Linked DNA regions of Homo sapiens: all the other regions are linked to region 2. Evidence: fine-mapped expression QTL. A gene starts in region 2. Each other region holds a variant in brackets. All regions are shown on one strand. Distances are from middle to middle.

Region 1 (8,188 bases), 180 kb before region 2:
GTTGTTTTCGTTTTTTCAACCCTTGCAGAGTTGGGTTATCCTGAAACTGCCTTTGCAAAAATTATAACTGAGTCAAGTATTACAGTGAAAGATACCTGACCTAACTGACTCCGTCTTGCTTCTAACTTCCATGCTGTCCTTGTTCATTGATGGTGGACCAAACTTATTTTGGGAGGAACTTCGTTTATAGTTTACCTTTGAAGTAAAGATAATAGCCCTTTCCCAAAACAAACCCATTTCCTGCCTGGGGACTATATTGTCTTTATAGGACTAACAAATTTGCCACAAGATTATTACAGTTTAGGAGTCATGTAGCCAGAGGCTGCAAGATTCTGAACCTCCCCAGATTGCTTCTAGGGATAACATCACTGTTGTAAAACTTAAGATCAGTGCTTGAGATATTTTTGCAGACCTTTTTCAGTACTTGACATCACATGACTGCAAAGCTGAAAATATTTACTATCAATAATATAGTAAAATATTTGCTAACAGTACTTTGTTTCAAAGTTTACTGAACAATAACTCAGTGTTCTATTCTTGCCGTGTTAGTTAACAAGTTTATACTGAACTAATTTGTTAAATATTAAATTCCTTCAGTTCAAATAACTGATATAGTTTCTGTCTCCTGCTTGGACCCTGACTGATACAGAAATTGATTCCACAAGTGATCTCAGGTAACAGACACTCCAAAATGGGATTTCAAAATTGGTTTCTTCATGTTCTTGGGTTTGAACACAATGCTGAAATTATATACTAGTAATCTATGGCATGTAGTAGCAATTCATTCAATCAAATTACCACTATTAGTGATTGTGATGAAGTGCCTGCTGAGACAACTGCCTAAGAAGCTGCTGAACTTGACCATTATGGCAGTAACAATGATTATAAGAACTTTGGTGTGGAATGGGTTTTCTGATAGCACTGAATCTCTTATAAAAAGAAAATGACAAACTCATAGACTCAGAGAGCTTCTACTGCTTCCCTAAAAGAATATTTTATTTCCACAGGGATAAGGTATTAGTTCATTTTCATGCTGCTAATAAAGACAGACCCAAGACTGAATAATTTATAAAAGGAAGAGGTTTAATGAACTCACAGTTCCACATGGATGAGGAGGCCTCACAATCATGGCAGAAGGCAAAGGAGAAGCAAAGGCACATCTTACATGGTGGCAGGCAAGAGAGCTTATGTGGGGGAACTCCCCTTTAAAAAACCATCAGAACTCATGAGACTTATTCACTATCAAGAGAACACCATGGGGAAGACCTGCTCCCAGGATTCAATTACCTCCCACCAGGCCCCTCACACAACATATGGGAATTATGGGAGCTACAATTCAAGATGAGATTTGGGTGGGGACACTGCCAAACCACGTCAGCTAACAGTGCTAAAAATCAAACACAAAATTTAATTGGGCAGGTTAATTATAACAAAAGTAAATTTATACCTTTTCCAAATCCCTCATGTCTGATCTGAGGGAAAAATGCATCCCTATCAGTCTGCTGAGATCTATCAACCCCTTCTCTGACTATTGCTTTAGATGCATAAAATAAAATTAAATAAAATATATAGAAATAGAAAATAAAATATGAAACCAATTATATTGGAATACAGTAACCAAATGTTTTAAAAAGCATGTTATTTACATTAATGGTTTAAAGAACAATATCTAGTGGTAAGTCTTATAAGGGAAATACATTTGAATATTTTTTGACATGTCTGCACCAACTATAATTTAATATGAAATATCTATGATTTCTATTGTTGATAAAGTCATGGGTAATGATAATACAAATGCTCCTTGACTTACGATGGAGTTATATCCCAATAAACCCATAATAATTTGAATATCTTAAGTTTAAGATGCATTTAATGCGACAGACTACAGAACATCATAGCTTAGTGTAGCCTACCTTAAACATGCTGTGAATATTTACCTTAGCCTACAGTTGGGCAAAATCATCTGGGAACATAGTACATGGTAGAGTATCAGTTGGTTACCCTTATGGTCATGTGGCCAACTGGAATCTGAGGCTCGCTACCGCTGCTCAAAATCGTGACAGAGTATCATACTATGTATTGCTAGCCTGGGGGAAAAAACCAAAATTCAAAATCTGAAGTATAGTTTCTACTGAATGCAAATTGCTTTTGCACCATTGTAAAGTTGAAAAATCACAAGTCCGGTATAAGTAAAATCCTAAGTCTGGGACCCTGTAGTACAGATTGATTATTTGCCAATATTTTTATTATTGAAAAAAAAATCTTAAATTTCAGTTGCGTTAATAAAACAAGGATGTATTTTTTTTATTCTTTAAGTTTACTCATCTTCTGAATTACATTCATGTACTCCAATTTAAGAATCGCTGTTTTAGCAGTATAGGTATTCTTGAGAAGTTAGCTAAATTAGTCGAAGTTAATTAGAGAAGCACCAAGGTTGGAGGGTTCCTTTAGTCTCCTTTTAAGTCTTTCTACTTACAACTCACCTTTGTATCTTCGTTTCTTACCTCAGTGATCTCTTCATCTAGGAAACTGGATAAAGTACATCTATGTGCATCTATATTCCCCAGGACTTTTGCTATCAAAGCATTTATGATACTTTACTATTAAAGTACTTTAGAGTACTGTACATTCCCCATCAAAGGGGATATGACACTGCTCATTTGCCTTTATGTATTCTCTCCACTGGACTATAAGCTGACTCCTATTACGGATCATGTCTTGCTTGTTCTTGTTATGTCGAGTACAGGGCCTGCTCAATCTATATTTGTGAATAAACAAGTGAATGAATAGAGGAATTTCAAGGTGGAAATAATTTTTTCTTTTATTCATGGCCAAAGGCCTTGACTAGGTATTTTATAAACATGTTGCCATGAGTGGAGATAGAAGAGAGACTGTGATCAACATGTCAATACAAATCTGCCCACGCCTGGAACCTACTGACAGTGATGCAGTAGATGTACCACTTACTGGGGTGGGCAATGTTGGTGTCCTACCCAGCGTTTCTTCCATTTTTTTCTTGCAAATACACTTATAATTTGTTTTTCAATATCAGTATGACATGCATGTACATCAGGGGAGACTGAATCCCTCCTTAGCTGTGGGAGTGGAGATGAGTCTTGATTAGCTCTCTAGTCACAGTAATTGCCATTGAAAGAACATGATTGGTTTAGGCATGGGCATATGATACAACTATGGAGAATGAAGTGTGGTGGCAAGTGTGCTGAAGGGTTTCTAGGAAAGGATAAAAGGACATGCATGGGAGGCAACATTCCTGTTTTCCTCCCTTTCAAAATGGTTATAAGGAGACGATGCGTAGAACTGATGTAACCACAGTGTGATGATGAGAGGAGCAGCTGACTGTCTGAGAATGGCAATGTGGAAAAATCGAAAGAAAGTAGGTCATTTGATGTCGTTGAGATATTGTATTCACTGCTGTACTTGCTATGTGACAACCAGTGTCTTTGTTGTTTAAGCCAGTTTTTGATTGGCTTTTTTTTCTTACTAACATCTCAACGTGTCATATCTGCCTGAGTTTTATAAGTGAGGGGCAGCTTCTCTAATACCCATGC[A/G]CAGATGTGATAGGGAATTCATTCTGCTGAGATTTTGATACTTCAGAATAACAGAAGTCTGCCACAGTATGCAGGGATTCTTTTAGAGCTACAAAACTCTAGCAGACTAATTTGGAAAGTGGGTAGGGTGCCGGCAACTTCTGAAGCTCACCAAGTAAGAACATTTAAGTCTGGGTGATAAGCACATAAGCATTTGTAGGTGAACTAACCCCAAACACCCTTTTCAAACCGAAATATGCAATGGAGAGGCATTCTTCTGCAGCATGTTATGTGTTACCATGTTATGAAACAGGCTTTGACATTTGGATGTCTACCACTTGGTGAGTGGTTAGTTATAAAATGCTATTGGTTCAACAGATTATACTTCTGGAAAAAAGCCTGGACTTCTGGGATCTTTTTAGTGGCTGGTTTATTTGTATTTCCAAGGCCATTTTTCCAATAAGCCAACACAATCAAATTACATGCAGCTTTGAAGACTTTCTACCTTACAGTTTGACATTTTAATTAGGACTTTAAAGAGATAATAATCACAGCCCACAACTTCCCTAATGTTACCTAGAAATGGGCCAGTTAATTAGGATCCCAGAAAAACCACTGCATACATTTCTTTTTAATTGTTTTTCCAAGCTTCCATCACCACATCTCTTGGCTTCACCTCAGACCAAATCAAACAAACAGCAGGGAAATGTTTGATCTCTCTGGCCTTCAAAAAATCTAAGGGTGCAAATAATTCAGTTTGTGTCTACCATCTAAAAATGTATGTTTCACCCAACATAAGACATTTTTCTTTCATTTCAGGATTGCTTTTGAAGGGAAAACCATGCTAGTTCATTTCACTAGCTTATTCTCTGTGGAAGTGATTAAGATCCTGTTCACCTGATCCCTTTGGTTCTTATATCTAGATTTCATTTTTCTTTATCTTTTCTAGGGTAGCATTATGAATGGGTGGTCCCAGTAAAGAATGTTTTAATGCTCACAGACTGCATTTAAATTCCTTCTAAGGGAATTTTTATAAGGTGGAAGGAAACATGAGTCCATCTATTATTGAGAAACAAAGGGGCCCAGGGTGTCATAGCAATTCAAGAAATGAATTCTGTACTTTTGGGTGGGTTATGTGTAACAGGATGCTCTCTGCCTCACCAAGCCTTGTCCCTCCCTATCCCTTGGGTCAATATACAAGAATGGAAATGTGGTAAATGTCTAGAGTTGTTTGTCTAATGCTCTGATGTGTTTGGATACATTTAGGAGGGAGACGTGATTGCTGCTTCTCACAAAGTGTTTAAGGAGTGTAATAATATGCCACTTTGTCATGCTGCCAGGCAAGTACCTTTAGAGTCACTTTTGAACCTGATTACATGTACCTCAGTCTCCGGTTGGATGATTGGTTATGGCATTTATCTCAGTTTCTGAGTCCAGATATTACAAAGTTCCTTTAGTTAAATAGTTGGGCTACTGGTGGTTAATGTGAAGGATATCCTAAGCTTGCAACTTCATTGATGACTTCATTTTCATCATCATGCTAAATGGATTAACTTCAGTCTTGCTTGTTGTCAGAAGCAGATATACTGTGAAGTAAATGAAACTCAAGCTTTAGACTCCTCACTTGCTCGGGCCCCTTCCAAGTCTCAACAAGAGCTCTTGAGGTGCATTGATGTGATCATATGTTCTTGTAAAATTAAAAAAACATAAAATACTAGCAATCAGTTATGAACACAGTGATTTTCACAAGCACTTTTGCATCCACAATTTTGTACTCTTTTTCTTAGTGAGGGGACTCCCAAATTGCATAACTGTTAAGCCCAGCAAACCTGGATTTGTCTCTGCTTCTTATATAGGTAATATACTTTATTTAAGGTTGTAGGTTCTTGGTTAGAAGAGTGTGATGTGTCCAGATAGTTACAGGGTCACTTTTCAAGGTATCTGTCTAGGCAAAGGAGTGTCCCTGAAGTAGGAAGAGTTTGCTTGGAATGTTCTTATTTTCTTGTCTACTTGTTTCCCTGAGATTTCTCCAAATTTGGTATATTTCTCTGATCTTAAAGGCTTAAATGAGTTAAGATATGGGTAGCATTTAGGACAGTGGATGCACATGGTAAGTTTTCAGTGAATGCTAGCTATTATTATTGTATTTGTTTTCTCCAAATCTTGTAGTCTTGTGTTGTGTGTCTTTTTCTAGCTAATAACTTTATTTAGAGAACCAAGCTCAGTTATTATCACCTTGAGAAATGCCCCATTTCCCAGATGCATCACTTGGGTTTTTTTTTCTACTATTAAAAATATTTCTGGCATTATTTTCAAACATCTTGAAGAATAATCTAGTAAAATATTCTACAATGGACTACTGAAAGCTGATGATGGCTGAATAGAGTGACCCAAGATGTCATAGTGAAAGAGCATAGGGTTTAAATGCTGGCTCCACTGCATCCCATCTAGGTGACCACCCTCATTTCACTTCCTTTATCTTAGAAGAAAATGAGATAATACTTTATAAGGATGTTTTAGATACATACAGGGAAATCACAATATCTATAACAGCCTAGACACTGAATGAATAGCTATCGTTATTGTAATCAGGCCATTCTTGATGACTGTGCATCTGAGCCCCAAGAAAGGCATCTTTAATAGAGAAATTCAGAAGATGATTTTCTGTCAGTTGGGGAGATATTCAGAGGCATGGTGATGTGTCTAGTGTTTCTTAAATCTGATGTAGTTAAAATGTCTATGCCTATGAATAGCTTTGTGTTTTCTAAGATACAGGATAGAAAGCAATGATAATATAATATTCTAGCATACTTAGAAATACCGGTAACTCATAGGTCATTTTATAGGGTCTTACAGGAATTGGATTAGAAATTGTAAATCTAGCTAATGGAGTTTGAAGCCTATTCGAATTTGATAAAAATATAATCAGAAATGAAATCTGAATTTATTTGCCTGATTGATCTAACTTTATACTAGATTTCTGTACAAATTTAAGTAATGATTGGTAATGGTTAAAGATTTGTGACATAGCACTTCCAGGCAAATACGGTTAAGAATTAGTGAGAAAGAATTTGCAGGAAAATATGTTTCTCCAATCTCATTTGGATTTCATTCCACCCATCTTCACTCACAATCAGGCACTTAAATTACTGATTTCTACCTTACCTGAAAAATGTGATAAAAATAGCTATAGTATTCCCTTAATGTGCTTGGATAAATTATTTTTTATTATTGATTTATTTGTTTTTATATGAAACAGTCTCTTAATCTCTTTGTCTAATAGGTCTAAAATTGATAAAACTTTCTTTTGAACTTGAAGATATCTGTAGTTTCAAGGGTGTTAGACCTAGTTGGGCATGTCTACACTAACACACATAAACAAAATGGAGAAATTGCTACATGAGAGTATATGGAGCTTTTAAAAACATAAATATGTATCAGATATAAAATATGTAAAATTATAGACTATGAACTTCTTAAGGGCAGCATCTAGCAAAATGCCTGGAACATACAAATGCTCAATATGTATTTGTTAACTAAGTCAACAAATCAATTGGTTTAAACAGAATTAAATGGAATAGTTTGGACCTTATAGAAAAAACTCATGAAATATATTGGAAAATGTGAATATTTGATCCTCTTAGAGGAGTATCAGCAATTTTAGGGGATCAGAGATTTTAGGGTATAGTGAACAGAAAGGCCAACTGCCTCATTTTACACGAGGGAGTCAGTTGGCCAATTTGGTCTCATGCTCTTGACGCTATAGATATCTTCAAGTTCAGAAGAATGTGTTATTAATTTGGGTCCCATTAGACAAAGAAATTAAGAGACAATCTATCCGTTTCATGTAAAAACAAAACAAAACAAGAATAACAAGCAGTTTATCCAAGTAAAATAACTTGTTTAAATAAGAGATGGAACCAGGAGATGGTATAGAAAGCAAATTGAGGTTCACATGGAAACATTCCCATATGTTGTTTCTCCACGTAAATCAGTAAATGATAAGCAGAACTTCTGGGATAATATTGAGAAAATAAGTGCTATGTCAATGACAAGACTTGGTTTCTTCTAAAATTATTTGTCCTTACTTATAGTTACCAATTTCTTTCAGATTAACTCCCAAGGATTGTCCAGACACTTTTGTTAAAAGGAAAACCTATTGTATTGTGTATTGCCTAAATAAAAAAAAACTCATAATCATAGTTAAGAGGTATGAAAATGTCTATCTTTCAAAGGTTTTCATTGTAATGAGGTTTGACATACATCATGCCTATAGTGAAAAGTGCAAATTTAGAAGAAGGTGAACGATGGCAAGTCAGTTTTATACAATTGACAAAACCTGAAGGACAACCACCCACATGGCTCTCATCACTGTCAAAACCCATTTAGCTGAAAAGGAAAGAAAGAGAACAAAACAAAAGAGCACCATGCTTTTGAGGTGGAGACATACTGTGCTACAGGAATGCAGGGTTTCCAGACTGTATATGTCTGTGTTTGTGTGTGACATAGTCTTGACTCACTGGGTACCTGGGTCCTCCTCTGTTTGAGGAATTTGACTTTCTTAACCCTATGCAAAGCTACTTGCTGCAGAGCACAACAAAGCTGGCTATGTGCCAGCTCAAATAACAGCAACTTTTTAA
Region 2 (8,188 bases):
AGTCTTGTGACTCATATGCTTGTTATTTTCCAACCAGAAAGAGGCAACAGTAGGACATGATGCTCTTTTACTATGGGAATATAAAAAAGTTAAACAATTTTGCAAAGGTTTTTTCATAAAAAGCCCAAAGCATTTTGCCCTAGGCTGCTTCTCTTTGGAATTTAAAACCCGTGTGGAATATCGTATGGGGAAATGCAACCGACATGCCCCTCGTTGGTTTGCATTTAACTCATTACATGTTGATTGCTAAGAACACATACATGACCAAGAAGATAGCCAAGCCCTTTGAAAGAACATATGAAATCTAAACAAGGAGCCTGAGTCGGGACAGTCTTAAACAGATGTGAAGTCCTCACAGCCTTTGCCATTTTGAAGATTAAATTACTAGCAAACCACTTTCAACAAGGGTTTTGGTTCTCATAGTAATGACCAGGACCCATAACAGACATTAAAGAAAAAAAGTGAGGCTTATTTAGAGTTAGGGAAAATATCCCAACACCCGCTTGGACTCCCTAATTTTGGTAATCTGCTTTCTCTCATCTATATGATGGGAAAAGTCATACTCTGTCACCTTAGGATTATTCTGTTACTTAATGAGTATAAAATTACTTGAAAATCAATGTGGTAAATATTCTTAATAACTGGAATGAGCAATTGTGCACCATGCATAAAAAAAGAAATAGCTTTGGAGAAATGTAATTTCTTGGATGGACAGATTGTCTATCTGCTAGAGGAATGGCCCTCAGTTTTGTGATGTGTTTATCGTTCATTTAGAAAAATGATTGAAGAAATCTGAGAAATGACATAACCAGATTGGCTGTGTATCTTTTTGTTCTCCTATTTAAAAAAAAATTCCCTTCAAACACTTCTAACCTCAATAAATAAATAAATAAAAAGAAACAAAAGCCCCCAACAGAGTCCTAATTCTAACTTATAACCACTTAAAGTCTGGATATGCTTTGAACTTCACATTTAAAAGAAAGGTTTTTCTGATTTTCTATCAATCCCTCTCCTTAGCTTGCCATTTACAAACATACTTTCCTCCTTCAGAGCAAAAGCAAGTGAGAGAGAATTGGTTTAAAGCTGCTGAAGTCTCCACTGCAGGGGAGCACTGGTTTAATTCAATCAAGGTAGAATGAAGGTCTGAGAAGGGGAGAGATTCTAAGGCCTGGGCAATTGAGTGGAAGCAGCATTTCCTGAGTCTACACCTCCTTCTGCCATTGTTGGTGGGAACTATGGCAATATAGCTTTCACATCTCCACCAGTTAAAATACTGTGCTATCAACTCCCTGCCTTTGTTCTTTCTTTTTTCCCATAAGGACATTGAGTAGTTTGAGAAGATACATGCAGTAAATGTACATTGCATATATTAGTAATATTATTTTGCTAACATTGTATGCTAGTCATAGGGAAGGTGTAATTTTTCTATGTGGTTTATATTATTTTTCTAAGCTTTGAAGTCTTTTAACAATTTCGTCCATGAGATGCAAATTCAAAACTCATTAGGAGCCAAACTAATGAAAAAAATGAAAGAATTTGTAGGGAATGCTGAGGGTTGTGTCACAAGAGAGGGCATTGCACAAGGCCACCACGTTTTACAATTCCAGGGCACCCCCATTCACATCATATTGTATGTGAATGGTGCCCCCTAGTGTAGAGCAATGCAGAGGCCCTCTACATGCCCTGTTCATTCATTCATTCAGGACGTCCTCAATGAGCCAACTGTGCGCCAAGCATGGTTCTAGGTGTTGGGGAGGTAGCAGTGAACAAAGTGGACAAGAATCCCTGCTCTCACGGAACCTAAAGGCATTCTTTTTTGATTATTGTTTTTTTAAAGGCAAAAAAGCAACCTGCCAACCAAACAAAATGCATTAATATGCAGAATTCAGCTAACAGGACGACAAATTAATGACTCTTGTCTAGGCTTTTAAATTATTTCTGTGATCATGAAGGTTTTAGCCACATGGAAAAAATACGCAATACGCTAACCACAAGCTTGCACCTACTGCTTAGCTTATGCCTAAGCTCTGGCTACATAGAAAACTCAGCTATCTATTACCCAGTATCTAAAACTCAGTATCTATCACTGAGAAAACTCAGTGATCTATTAGGTAACACAGGATGAAAAAGTAGAATAAAGTGGGGGTCATGCCATTCTGCCAAAGCATTGTCTGCCTAAATACCTGTCCTAAAGACTCATGGGAGAGGCAAGCCAATGAACAATGGTCAATGTGGCACCTTGAACCAATTCAGTCGGCTCTTAACTTCCCATACATTTAATTAAAATTTTTTTCAAACAAAAAGGAAGATTCCTTAAAGTATCAGGTCTCTTAGGGGTTATGCTAACAGAAGCAGGTGAAACACCAAATTTAAAGAGCTTTCATTAATAATTTCTCAGCCTTATGGCTTCTTAATGCTATTCAATGGAAAGTTTTAATTTTATCTGCAAAATGAAGCTAAAAGAATGTCGCCTAGCTCCTTCCCTGTCTGGAGGAACTTGGATTTTTTTTTTTTTTTTCATTAGAAGCTTGGGTAAAACTAAAAAGAAACCTGTATTCAAGTTTCTGCAAGAAGCTTTAAAGAAATGCTGGGATGGTACTCAAATAGTTTACAAGTTTTCCACCTACAACTCATTTTGCATTTTCTTAAATAAGATAATGACTCAAAAAAATTTAAAGGACCTAGGTCACAGATCTTACAAAGGGTTGGAGTCATGGTATAAAGGTATAAAGATTGTATATAAATGTTCATATTTTCCAAGAAACAGAGCAAAGACCGCCTGTGATAACTCTTCCTTTTTTCTACCTGCCTTCCAGGATCCTTTCTTTCCAAAACCCCTCATAAATTAATGATAATGATAATCAGAAGAGAGAGTGTTGGCCATATCAATCTGCACATTATATTAAATTACTTTTCCCAAAGTTTGGAAGCATTTCCTGAAGGCTGTCAAGGGTATTAGTTTTTTTCTCTCTTTAAATCACAAAGCAAAATTCCACTGTCTCTCCCCAACCCCTTCTAAAAAAAAAAAGTTGTCGAGTTTTGCTTTTCTATTCACTGCAATCCTGGCCAAAGTAAAGCCCTCTTTCTCAATGACGTCAAGATCTTTACCAAGATTAGGCTTTCACTTCTCTATTGCAGCAATTAGCCAGGGAATGTATAAAAGGCGTCAGGGAGACTCACTGGGCTGCAGAGAGAGGCACTTTGCACCACAGACAGATAGCAAGAAGGGAAAGACAGAGAGTGAGAAAAAAGAGGAGTCAGTCGCTCCTGGGGAAGGGAGAGAGTGAGACTGGGAGAAAGAGAAGCACAGAAAGTGTGTGTAAAACGGAGTAAAGAAAGAAAAAAAAAAAACTACCCTTAAAGCACATTTAAAAAAAAAAAAAACTCTGGCAATTCAAGAAAGAAACAGGCTACGTTTAAAGAGCATAGAGACAATGAAAGGCTAAAGAAAATTTTAAAATCTCTGCCACAGTCTCATAGGTGCTTGGAAATGAAAGTAGAACTGCCTGTCTTTAACGGACTCTGACAGAGGTAACTGGATTAGGGACGAGTACGCCAGCTTTTTTTTTTTTTTTTTTTTTTTTTTTTTAACATCTTAAATCCTGAAAAAAAAAAAAAAAAAAAAAAAAAGGCAGCAGCTCCGAATTGAATGAATTGATGGGCACACTCCAACTGCTGGGCTGGAGAGACTGGACTTAGTCTTGCCATTTCTGCTTCTTTGAAAGAGGAGACAACTTGGGCTTCCTTTTAATTTAGTTTTTTTTCCCCTTCTCCCCCAACCCCCAACCTTCCCCCTTACCTCCCCCACCCCCTTTATCACCACCCCCCTTTTAAATAAGAGGGTGAAGGGGAACCAGAGCGCACAAGGGAACTGACTCAGGAGGCAGAGAAGATGGGCATCCTCAGCGTAGACTTGCTGATCACACTGCAAATTCTGCCAGTTTTTTTCTCCAACTGCCTCTTCCTGGCTCTCTATGACTCGGTCATTCTGCTCAAGCACGTGGTGCTGCTGTTGAGCCGCTCCAAGTCCACTCGCGGAGAGTGGCGGCGCATGCTGACCTCAGAGGGACTGCGCTGCGTCTGGAAGAGCTTCCTCCTCGATGCCTACAAACAGGTGAGCTGAGCTGAGAAGGGCTTCTCCCTAGGTCTACAGGGGCAGGGGCTCATATGCTGGGGACCAGAGGCCATTGGGAGCATTGGGGGGAGAGCTGTGAAGCCCTATTTGTGGGGTTGCCAAGTGAGCCTCTAAGTTTACTTTCCACACCTGTTGCACAGGTTAGCTTGGGAGGGTGACAGCTATTAAGCCATAATGACTCTGTGTGACCTAATAAGGAATCTTTCTACTAAGGGTTATTAATATCTTGCTGTGATTTGGGAGTAGAAGGCATTGTGCTGGTACGATAACTTGGGAAAAGTCAGAAAATGATGGAGAAGAGGAGACTGCTGCATTTATTCTGCTCTTGCCATAAACTGGAATTTTGATTTTTTGCTTGATGGGAGGCTGAGGTACACTGAGGAAGTATGTTCGAGGGGTGGGTACTGAAAAGCAAGAAATGAGAAATGCTACTCAGAACTCTCAGAGAGTTGACAAGATAAGAAAGTGGTCATAGAAATTGTGATTGGGCATCATAGCTGCTTGGTTTCTGGTAGAGGTAAGAGTTAATGAAAGCAAGCAGCTGTGTGCCACCTCCTCTACATTGATTCAAATTTGAACCCTTTGGAAGCGATTTTCAGGCAGTGATCCTGAGTTACTAGATATCAACTTGCGAAAGAAAAGTCTGAAAACTAGCTGTCAGAAATCCAGCATTTGTAAGGGAAGCCTCCTTTACTTTGTTTCTCAAAAATAAAATACGTTGCCCTAGAAAGAGATGATGGGTCTGTGATTCATTAAATCTCAGAGCTGTTATGAGCATTAGAGCAGTGGTCTCCCTTACCTGCTCAGGTAGTGCCCAGGGGCTGCTCTCTCAAAATCAGAGGTAGTGATCTTAGTTTCTAAGTGAAAAATACTGTGTTCCAGGCTTTTTGCTGGTGAGAGATGTTAGTAGAGCATTTTCAACTAAGATCTTCAGGGGCACAGAGGATGATTTTCGCCCTGGTCTTTTGTCAGTTTTCCCCCACCTGCTATGCCCATATGACTTCTAAAGGTCCCCTCCACCCCCTCAACCAGGCTTGAGAAGAATGAACTATTTTGGCAAAAGTAGTTATCAAAATAGACAATCTTGGTTTCCCTAAAAGTGTTGTGGGACCTTGCCCAAGATGCCAGAAAAAGCAACTGTACATCTGTATTTTAGAGGAATATAGAAGCCAGGTGTTCAGTGAAGTGGTGTGTTTTAGGCAGGCAGCACCTTAGAACCAGAGACGGGGAACTCGAAATAATAGAGACGCAAGGGAATGCATCCTCCATAAATAAACACTAGAAAACTAAAACCATGCGCCAAGAAAAGAGAAGAAGTAACTTGTAAAATTACAAAGAATTCAGGACAGGATTGTTCTTCTGAAAATCAGATGTTCAAGAAGAAAATATCTGTTGTGAACTAGGGAAATTTTACCACAATGCACGTCTTTATTATTGATAGTAACCCAAAGAGGGTTTGTGTTTATTGTTGTTAAAAATGTGAATAGTAAGAGCTCTTATTAGTAGATGGAAATTCTTTTATGAGAATATGAATTGGTGCTCAAAGTTCTAACAGTAAAAACTCATTTATATTGTGCATGTCAGTGAGGACGGGAGATCTAGAAAAGTAGATATTGAATTGATTATTTCATTTCCACAAAAGTATACATTGAATGGGAAGTTTTTAATGGTTTGTTTTAGTGGAAGGCAATTTGGAGGCAGGTGGAGGAGTACACAAGTATATCAGACATATTATTAATTAGGAAGTTCCCTCTTCAACATCATATTTTATACGTGTTAGCAGATACCATGGAAATATCAGTGATTTGATCTCAGTATATTAAACTCTTACTTTTTGGAAGGACAATTGCCTTTTGCCTATAAAGTAAAAAAAAAAAAACTTATTGGAAGAATTTTACTTATATACATATATTTCTTATATAAATGTCATGTTTCATTAAGAAAAACATGAAAAACAGTCATCTCTCATATAAACAATGGGGGCTGTAATGTTACCCACAAATATTAAGTGAGGTTGTTTCTCCCATTAAGCAGCTTATTGAACATAAAATGGAAAAGCAAACAAATACGTCTTCAATAAAGTTTATTGTTTTTTTCACCAATGTATAGTGTTCCATTATGTTGCAATATGTTGTTATTCCTATTCTAGGAAATTGGGAAGGATGAGTGATTTGTTTTTTCTTTTTGCATATGGTTTGTATATTCCTATTCTGTATTTCTTTGTCCCTGCCTACTGATTTGATTAGTGACCAAGTTCACGACTGATGTTATTATGTTTGCTTTTGATGATTTATGTAATAGCTACCATGTGCAGAAGCAACCCCAGGACCCACATATCCAGAAACAAGACTGGACTGGGTGTGTGATAAATGGAAACATTATGAACACAGCTGCAACTGAATGATGGTCTCTTTTCTGTCTTCAAGTATGGCAAGGGTGGTGGTTTCTGTGGTGGCATTTGAGGGTCACTCAGAATCTCTCAACCAGGTTGAATCACTTCTCTGAATGCTCTTGTCATTTGTGCCACTGTCTTTGGGTGTAGTCATTTCCAGAGACGTTGTAAGAGGTTCTGTTTGAGATGGCATCACACTATTTCATAACCCTGACTTGCATTATTTTGAGGCTACCCATCCCCAGAAGTGAAGTTTTCCAGGATGAGAGGGGTGTGTGCTCATGTGATACAACTACACATGTGATTTACTGTTATTAATTCTCCTTGTTGCTGCATGTCAGATGCCTGGAAAGATATGTAGAGAAAGTGGAGTAAAAGTATTATCCCTGTGTTTTGCCTCCACAAGGGGCAACACAGAAATAAAGAAAGAACAAAATATTTTCTTTTCTTTTTTTTTTAAATAAACCCTTTCTTAAAAGGTTGAAAGGGATTTGAATTAACTTTATGGAGAAGCCTTTAAAGATAATGTGAGTTTAGTAAGAGATGGATTCTGTGTACAATTTTGATTGAAAGGAAAGTCTATAGACACTGGTGAGAGACCCTGAGGTGAATAAAAGGTGTTTGTTATTTAAGTTTCTTTAGTCAGCGTCATTGCATCTGAACAGTATATCCTTGTGCTGGCGCTCAGAGACTAAAAACATGCAACCAATAAGCAAATTGCTCTGTCTGGGAGCCTGGCTCTTACCTAAATGAAGTGTAAAAGTAAACACACAGTATAGATGCTGACAGGCAGTTTAGCTTCTGCACGGTTAATATTGCAGAGGTACAGAAAACATATTCATTTGAACATATAATTTTGGTTTTGAAAGGGTCTCTTTAACATTCTCCTCCTCCTCTTCATTCACCTCAAGCCTTTGACACTAGTTTCCACAATGGAAAATGGCCCTTTTAAGAGAGAAACAGTCCCAAAAGAACACAAAGCAGGCCACAGCCAGAGCTTGTCCATCACTTGGATAAAACATTGGGGAATGATAGAGCTTAGAGCTACATTTTCAAGGTACAAATTAAAAAGAGAATAGCTAAAAGGGAATTGAGCTCAGAGGAAGGAGTACGTAGCCTATTCTTCAACTCTGATTTATTTGGCCAATCTGAATATAAATGGTTAAATCTCTTCTTAATGATAGTTTGGCCATGTTTCTAAGGACATTGATGTAGCCTGGTCATTATGTCAAAGAATTTGAAACTTCCTGATAGTTAATAAAGCCATTTTCAGGGCTTTGGATAGCAAGTAGTATGTGTGAAAATTCTGCTACCACACACCCACCCTTCATTTTTATAATTTGCTTTAGTTTCTGTTATGAGATTATGTGATATATTGTCCACAAGGCTTTCTCAGGCTGTGGAAAAGAAAAAGAAATAAAATCCCAAAACAAGAAACAAGGTTAGTAGTATATGCTGTATTTTCTGCTTCTACTTGATGAATGGTTCTTTTCTCCCCCTTGCCCTGCATTTCACAGTCCACATGCTAAAGCAGCATTTCCTTTTTCCCCATGCACTGAACACTGAACATCATCAAGGGAATCAAATTTTTATATATGCTATATGTTTATGTTCATGTTCATATTTATAAAGATTTCCATTCCAACATTTGAACTTGGCCC
Region 3 (8,188 bases), 84 kb after region 2:
ACTCCTTTGGATATTCTGTAGTTATTTCTCAGAGTACCCAAGAAAATACTTCTCTTATATTCATAAGACAATCTTTTAACTGCAGCAATGTTTTGGTGGCTACTATGTTTTTCCTTTCCTGAACCAGTAATTACTGCTTACCTGCAGTCTCTATAAAGCACCTGGAAAAAAGCACATTATTTTTGTGAGAAATTCAGTATTTAAGCCTATGGTAGACTTGATTTATTAGTGCCCTTCCTTCACAATTGAATCTCGCTTCCTTGTGTATGTTCTTGCTTTATCCCCTTCCATGTTGATTCTGGGCTAGACCATGTGACTTGCTTTGAGCAAAGGGATATAAGCAAACATGATTCAGGCAGAGGCTCAATAAGTGCTTGTACGATGGGTCGTATTCTATCAGAGTATTATTTTTTGGAAACCAGTTGTCATGAAAGAACTTTTACAACTTTGTGACTACCATGCTGTAAGGAACATTGAGAAGGAGAGATGAGCCAGAATTTCTGACTGACAGAACTGTGAAGAAATAAAATGGTTGCTTTTTTAAGCTACTAAGTTTTGGGAAGTAGTTTGTTAGGCAGCTATAGTAGATAACCTCAGGGTTCCAGAATGGGGCTCGGCCTGTATAGAGGTAGCTAAAATGGCTTCTTTCTAAAAGTTACCCAAGCAGAGCTGCTTCTTTTTGTGTGATTCACTCAATCTTATAACACAATTTTGTCAGTTTCATTACTTTCTAACTACATAGGGTGTTAAAAGAGAGTGTGGGAATGGGGAAACAGACTGTGTTACCCTTTCTTTACCCAAATCACTTTAATATAGACCCTGACCTGCAATTAAACTTTATCTTCTCCAATTAACTGGCCAAAACATTAGACCATCCTCCCACAACTTTTTGCATATTAAAGGCAACAAAGAAATGATTGAGGTGGCAGGTAGGTCAGTGGATACCATTTGACTAAACTGACAGAATTAAGGCCTCAGCTCCCTGATAAAATGTTCTCTGAAAATTGCAATCACATTTTTAGTTTTTAAGAAACCTCCATACTATTCTCCATAGTGGTTATACTAATTTACATTCCCACCAACAGTGTATGAGGAGTGCCCTATCTCCACATCCTTGCCAGCATTCATTATCGCCTATTTTTTTAAAAAAAACCATTTTAACTAGGATGAGATTATATGTCATTGTAGTTTTGATTTGCATTTCTCAAATCAAATTTGAGCATTTTTAGTGATGTTGAACATTTTTTCATATGCCTTTTGGCCATTCATAAGTCTTCTTTTGAGAAATGTCTATTCAGACCCTTTTCCATTTTTTTAATCAGATTATTTTTCTCTATTGAGTTGTTTGAACTCTTTATATATTCTGGTTATTAATCTCTTGTCAAATGAGTAGTTTGCAGATATTTTCTCCCATTCTGTGGGTTGTCTCTTCAATTCGGATTATTTCTTTGAGCAGAAGCTTTTTAGCTTAATGTGATCCAAATTGTCCATTTTTGCTTTAGTTGCCTGTGCTTTTAAGAACTTACTCAAGAAATCTTTGTCCAGATCTATGTTCTGGATGTCCTCAATGTTTTCTTGTAATAGTTTCATAGTTTCAGACCCCAAATTAAAGTCTTTAATAAATTTTAATTTTATTTTTGTGTATGGTAAGAGACGGGGTCTAGTTTCATTCTTCTACGTATGGGTATCTAGTTTTCCCAGCACCATTTATTGAAGAAACTATCCTTTCTCCAATGTGTATGTGTTTGGTACTTTTGTTGAAAATTAGTTAACTTTAAATGTGTGGAGTTATGTCTGGAGTTATTCTGTTCCATAGGTCTAAGTATCTGTTTTTATGTCAGTACCACAATGTTTCAGTTACCATAGCTTTGAAGTATAATTTGAAGTCAGGAAATGAGATTCCTCTAATTTTGTTCTTTTTGCTCAGGATGGCTTTGGCTATTCTGGTCTTTTGTGGTTTTGTATATATTTTAGGATTACAATTTCACTGCTGGTTACATATTCAAAAGAAAGAAAGTCAGTATATTGAATAGATATCTGTACTCCTATGTTAATTGCAGCACTATTTACAGTAGCCAAGATATAGAATCAATCTGAGTGTCCATCAATGGAAGAATGAATGAATGGATAATGAAAATGTGGTGTATATACACAGTGGAATATTATTCAGCCATAAAAAGAACAAAACCCTGTCATTTGTAACAACATAGATGGAACTGGGAGACATTATGTTAAGTGAAATAAACCAGGCACAGGAAGACAGATATCACATATTCTCGCTCATATGTGAGAGCTAAAAAAAATATTTTTTTTGAACTCATGGAGATAGAGAGTAGAGTGACGGTTACTAGAGACTAGAAAAGATAGCAGGGAGAGGGGGCTGAAATGGTAATAGTTAGTGGGTACAAAAGTACAGTTAGATAAAATGAATATGATCTAGTATTTGGTAGCACAATTGGGTGATTATAGCTAACAAGAATTTATTGCTTATTTTAAAATAATGAAAAGAGAGAAATTGGACTGTTTCTAACACAAAGAAATGATAAATGCTTGAGGTGATGGATACTCCATTTACCAAGAGTGAAATTGGAATGTTTCCAACACAAAGAAATGATAAATGCTTGAGGTGATGCATACTTCAATTACCCTGATTTGATCATTACACATTGTATGCTTGTATGAAAACATCACATGTACCCAATAACATATACAACTATTATGTACCCATAATAATTAAAAATAAAAATAAAAAGTCAATCACAATTACTGATCGTTTTATAATGTCCCTATTGCTCATTTTATAATTGTCCTATTGCGAAGATAAAAGAGAATTTTATCTTAACAAATACATGCTGCATGTCTTACTAGGGCATAAACTTTCCCTCTGTACTAATTCTCCAGATTAAGCTAGATCTGGGTGGAAGTGGAGGCTCACTTTTCCTGTTTGTTAATATTTCCACATGGAAAGGATTCCACTTAATACCATGCTCTGAATACCTTGAATCTGAGTGTGGAGGCACCTTGAGGACTTAGAAACTGTATTAGACAGAAAACTTTCAGTTGCAGGGGCTTGAAATTTCACTGAAGCAAAAATGGAGAGATTCTTATCTCACATAATGGTAAAGCTCAGGAATAGATCTGACTTTAAGCAGAAGGTGATCTCGAAGCTCAAAAAAGGTCATCTGCATCAAGAATTTATTGCTTTTTCTCTCTCTGTCTCCATGTGGAGACACTTACTCATCAGCTTTGAGCTTACATCCTGCCATATTAATGTCCCAGAGAATAAAGGGCATTCAGTTCCAATAATTTAAGCAAAAGTCCCAGGTAT[A/G]ACTTTCATTGACCTTAATTAGGTCACATGCTCATCATTGAACCAGTCACTGTGGCCAAAGTTTGCACAGGCCAGGTCCTCATGTCCACTCCTGGAATCTCACTTGCATCACTGAGATGGGAATATTTTTACAATAAAGGGAAACAGACCTTAATCAGCCAGAAAAGATAGATGCCTGCTATGGAAAAGAAAAAAAAAAAGGTCCCTGATGCCAAGTTCTAGTTCATTGTTCAAAATTCCAATTATGGACATCCTGAAGAAAAGTTATATTTTTCACTGTAACTTCATGATTCTTTGGCTGATGAAGAGGAGCCAGAGAAAGGCATTTTGGATTGTGATGCAATGCTGTTCAGTGGTGTTAGCCACCAGGAGTTCCACTGTATTCACCGCTGCATTTGAATTTCCAGGTGGCTTCTGCAGCCAAAAGGACGCCCTTCCATCTTTGCTGGCCAGGGTTCTGACTCCTTGCTTCTTAGACATTGATTTGGCCAAGATAACTGGTGTACCTCTCACAGATTCTCTCAGGGATTGACTTGCATTTTATGGATATGGGATTTGTATCCATGTAGAGTAAGATTTGACTCTTACTCTGCATGGAATACAGGAGTTCCCCAATGAGAAAGGCAAAGCCCTGGGCTTTGTGTTATTCCATTGTTCTCTTGGTCTCAATCCCTGATTCCAAGATGGCTTCACTCAAGGCTGTGACAATTTTCTTTGAGACCTAAATTAGAATGGGACATGGAATAATCAGCTGGCAGGCTTCTCTGCCCCAGAATGGAGTCCACCTGGCTGCTGCACAGCAAATAATGCCACAATCTGGTTGAACCGAGAGGTCGAATTTACCCAGAAAGAAGCCCAAGCCTTCATAATGGTTCTTTCACAAGTTCTAGGATTCTTGTACACAACCTGAGATTATTAATGAAAAAAATATAGATTGATTATATAAATCTGTGTTTGACAGATTAGAAGAATGAGGTTGTGTGGTGGAAACCTTTTGTTAGTCCAGAATCCAGTACCTTTACTTTTGAGACTTACAGAATAATGACACGTATGATTTCCTTTTAACCATTGCCTGTCTCTCACTTTTAGTCTATTTCATATAAGATGTGCCTATGCCCCACTTCAGGGATGAGCACCTTAACCACAACCAACCTTAGAAATATATTCTATTTTCTTAACATGCTAGTTGGTTCAGAGTTGGACATATGATCCAATTTGTATTAATGGGAGGACTTTTTCATAATTTTTAGAAGAGTCAATGCACTCTTACTGCTGCTTATGAAGCTAGGAAGATGCAACCCATGAGTTAATTTAAAAGAGCCACAGTTTTGGAGAAGATATCACCAATGGTGATGTCAATATGAAGGAGGGCAGAATTTAAAAAATGGAGAGAGGGACCTCAATCTGTTTTTTGTTTTTGTTTTTGTTTTGTTTTGTTTTGTTTTTTGAGACAGGGTCTCACTCTGTTGACCAGGATGGAGTGCAGTGGCATGATCTTGGCTCACTGCAGCCTCCGCCTCCGGGGTTGAAGTGATTCTCAATACCTTGGCCTCCTGAGTAGCTGGGATTACAGGTGTGCACCACCACTCCTGGCTAATTTTTGTATTTTCAATAGAGGCGGGGTTTCACCGTTTTGGCCAGGCAGAAAGACCTTGTTCTTATGGCATTGTTTGAATCCCCAGATCCAGATATGCCTGAAGTCAGTTTCTACATACAAAGACTGATAATTTATTCCTTTGACTTAAGCCAATCTGAAGGCTGAAGATGCATCACTGTGAAATTTAAGCAGCAACCCCTAAATTCCTTCCACCCTAGACTAGCCACTGTGACCCACAGACTGTGGAATCAGAGGCGGGGATAACTGAATAGGAGGTCCACAGTGGATTTTGGTTCATTTTCACATAGAACATACAAATAAACAACTGTATTTTATCACAAGAGATTCTTAATTGGCTATTGCACCTCTGCTTTTCATTAATCAATTCTTCATGTTGTAGTTAGAAGTGAGTATTTCAACATGCAAATCTGATCATGCCACTAGCTCTTCAGAGAGTCCTCAAAGCTTGTAGAACAAGTTCAAACACCTCAACATGTGTACAAGACCCTTTGTTTCCTAATATCTGTTTATTTCACCAGCTGCTACAGTTCCAGGTTCTCTCTCACCTGCTATCTGCCTGTCTTGTTTTCCTTTACCAACATACTACTTTCTCTTTGAGTCTAAGTCCTTTTTTGTCCTTTTTTTTTTTTAAGACATAGTCTTGCTATGTCACCCTGGCTAGAGTGCAGTGGTGTGATCTCGGCTCACTGTAACCTCCACCTCCTGAGTTCAAGTGATTCTCCTGGCTCAGCCTCCCGAGTAGCTGGGACTACAAGTGCATGCCACCATGCCCAGCTAATTTTTTTGTATTTCTTTTAGTAGAGATGGGGTTTTGCCATCTCTAGGGTGGTCTCGATCTCCTGACCTGGTTAGCTAGGATGGTCTCGATCTCCTGACCTCGTGATCCACCTGCCTCAGTCTCCCAAAGTGCTGGGATTACAGGAGTGAGCCATTGCGCCCAGTTGGGTCTAAGTCTTAGTGCCACTTCCTGAATAACTAGGTTACAAGATCCTTGGTCTTTGCTTCTATATCAGAACACTTAGACAATGGAAGATGGTAATTATGATATAGTATGTTGTCCCACGAACTACCCTATACATTCCATTTGGGCAGGGATCATGACTACCTCATTACCCCTATATTTACAGAACGTAGGTGGTGCTTAGCCTACATTGCTAAATAAATGACTAATGAGTGAATACATCTTTGTATCAACTTGGAGCCAACTTTTCAAACATTATAGACTAACTTAAACTATTAGCTCATATTAGTGCATTTCTTTTTGAAGACCAGAATGAGGAATTAGTGAGGAAACCCATTGTCCTTTCATGAATTTCTGTGGAGGAGAGGACTGCTTCTTTTCTCCCGATAAGCTAAGGAGTTGTTTAGAATAAACACCTTGGCTCACTTTCTGTATCTTTCTTACTTTTCCCCTAGGATAAGGAGTCATGAATTTGAATAGTGAGAACTCCTCTTCCAGTGGGCCACAGTTTTCTAGGGAGAGCACTACTAACAATAGAAATGCCTTTCTGTCTTGACCTCTTGGACTGAATGTGCTCAGATGCAGCAGGCATGCCTGCCCTCTAGTCCTCTCCTTTGCTTCTGATCCTCAAGCATTAAATCCACTTCGGTGGAGGTGGTGGCTGCCAATCTCTGGCTTCTTAAATGTGCCTAGATAGATAAGTCAAACAGAGCCAGCTATCTTTAATACAGGGCATAGTGGCTTGAGTAGCGATCCTCAAAATGTATGTTCAGGTGCTAACCTCCAGAACCTGTGAAAGTGATCTTATTTGGAAAAGGAGTTGTGTTAGGCTATTCTTGCATTGTTATAAAGGAACACCTGAAGCTGGATAACATAAAGAAAAGGAGTTTAATTGGCTCATGGTCCTGGCAGACTGCACAGCACACATGGCACTGGCATCTCCTCATATTCTGGTGAGACTTTAGGAAGCTCGCAGACATGGCAGAAGGCCAAAGGGGAGCAGGCACATCATATAGTGAGAGCCAGAGTAAGAGAGTGAGGAAGAAGGTGCCACACACTTTTAAACAACTAAATCTCCTGTGAACTGAGAGAGAGATCACTTATCACCAAAGGGATGGCACTAAACCATTCATGAAAGATCCACCCATATAATCTGATCACTTTATTCCATGCCACACCACCACCAACATTGAGAATCACATTTCAATATGAGATTTGGAGGGGACAAACATCCAAACCACATCATTCTGCCTCTGGACCCACAAATCTCATGTCCTTCTCACATTCCGAAATACATTCATGTCTTTCTAAAGTTCCTTGAAGTCTTAACTCATCCCAGCATTAACTCAAAAGTCCCAAGTCTCAAGTCTCATCTGAAGATGAGTTTCTCCCACCTGTGAGCCTCTGAGATAATAAATAAGTAAGTTATTTATTCCCAAGATACAATGGTGGCACAGGCATTGGGTATAAATTACCATTCCAAAAGGGAGAATTGGCCAAAAGAAAAAGGCTACAGGCCCCATATCAGTCTGAAACCCAGCAGAGCAGTCATTACAGCTTAAACCCCCAAAGAATCTCCTTTAATTCCATATTCTGCATCTATGGCACACTGGTGCAAAGGGTGGGCTCCCAAGGCCACACACAGCTCTACCCATGTGGCTTTGCAGGGTGCAGCCCCCATGGCTGCTCTCATGAGTTAGAGTTGGTTGCCTGCAGCTTTTCCAGGCTCAAGACGCAGGCTGCCATGAAACAACTATTCTCAGGTTTGGAGGGCGGTAGCCCTCTTCCCACAGCTCCACTAGGCAGTGCCCTGATGGAGACTCTGTGTGTGGGCTCCAACTCCACATTTGTCTTCAGCACTGCCCTAGCAGAGGTTTTCTGTGGAGGCTCCACTCTTGTAGCAGATTTCTGCCTGGGCGCCTGGGCTCCTGGGCTTTTCCACGAATCTTCTGAAATCTAGGGGGAAGCTGCCAAGTCTCCTTTATGATTGCATTCTGTATGCCCACAGGCTTAACACCATGTGGAAACTGCTAGGGTTCATGGTGGCTTGCATTCCCCAAGCAGCAGCCTAAGCTTTGAGCACTTTGAGCTGAGGCTGGAGCCAGAGCACCTGATTGTGGGGAGCAGTGTGCTGAGGCTGTGTAGGACAATGAGGCCCTGGGCCTGATCTACTAAACCAATTTTTCCTCTTAGGCCTCTGGGCCTATAATGGGAGGGTGGTGTATTAGTCTTTCCTCTTGGGCCTCTGGGCCTATAATGGGATGGGTGGTATATTAGTCCA

Which allele goes with the higher level. Positions count from the first base shown, and alleles are read on the strand shown. Sizes are in standard deviations (SD) of each study's normalised expression. Not every link is listed here.
For the expression in thyroid of the gene that starts at base 3,861 in region 2, G is the high allele of the variant in region 3 and A is the other (small effect, 0.21 SD a copy in GTEx).

Evidence for each region. PIP is the estimated chance that this variant, and not a neighbour inherited with it, causes the effect. A credible set is the group of variants that fine-mapping cannot tell apart.
Region 1: its variant is the best candidate, but not a certain one, in a credible set for the expression of DIO2 in nasal epithelium (TOPMed, PIP 0.65).
Region 3: its variant is the best candidate, but not a certain one, in a credible set for the expression of DIO2 in thyroid (GTEx, PIP 0.83).

The regions. Positions count from the first base shown.
Region 1 is chr14:80,390,929-80,399,116 of GRCh38, reverse strand. DIO2-AS1 (DIO2 antisense RNA 1) reads right to left here. Exons shown (of 9, transcript NR_038355.1): 6 at 4,931-5,134; 7 at 1,938-2,087. Among named protein-coding and RNA genes, the nearest start is that of DIO2, 180 kb to the right of the region's middle. The variant A/G (reference allele first, on the strand shown) is at 3,570.
Region 2 is chr14:80,207,177-80,215,364 of GRCh38, reverse strand. It overlaps DIO2 (iodothyronine deiodinase 2), which reads left to right and starts at 3,861. Exons shown (of 2, transcript NM_013989.5): 1 at 3,861-4,114. The coding sequence starts at 3,893. It overlaps DIO2-AS1 (DIO2 antisense RNA 1), which reads right to left and starts at 3,946. Exons shown (of 9, transcript NR_038355.1): 1 at 3,877-3,946.
Region 3 is chr14:80,122,872-80,131,059 of GRCh38, reverse strand. No RefSeq gene overlaps it. Among named protein-coding and RNA genes, the nearest start is that of DIO2-AS1, 84 kb to the left of the region's middle. The variant A/G (reference allele first, on the strand shown) is at 3,329.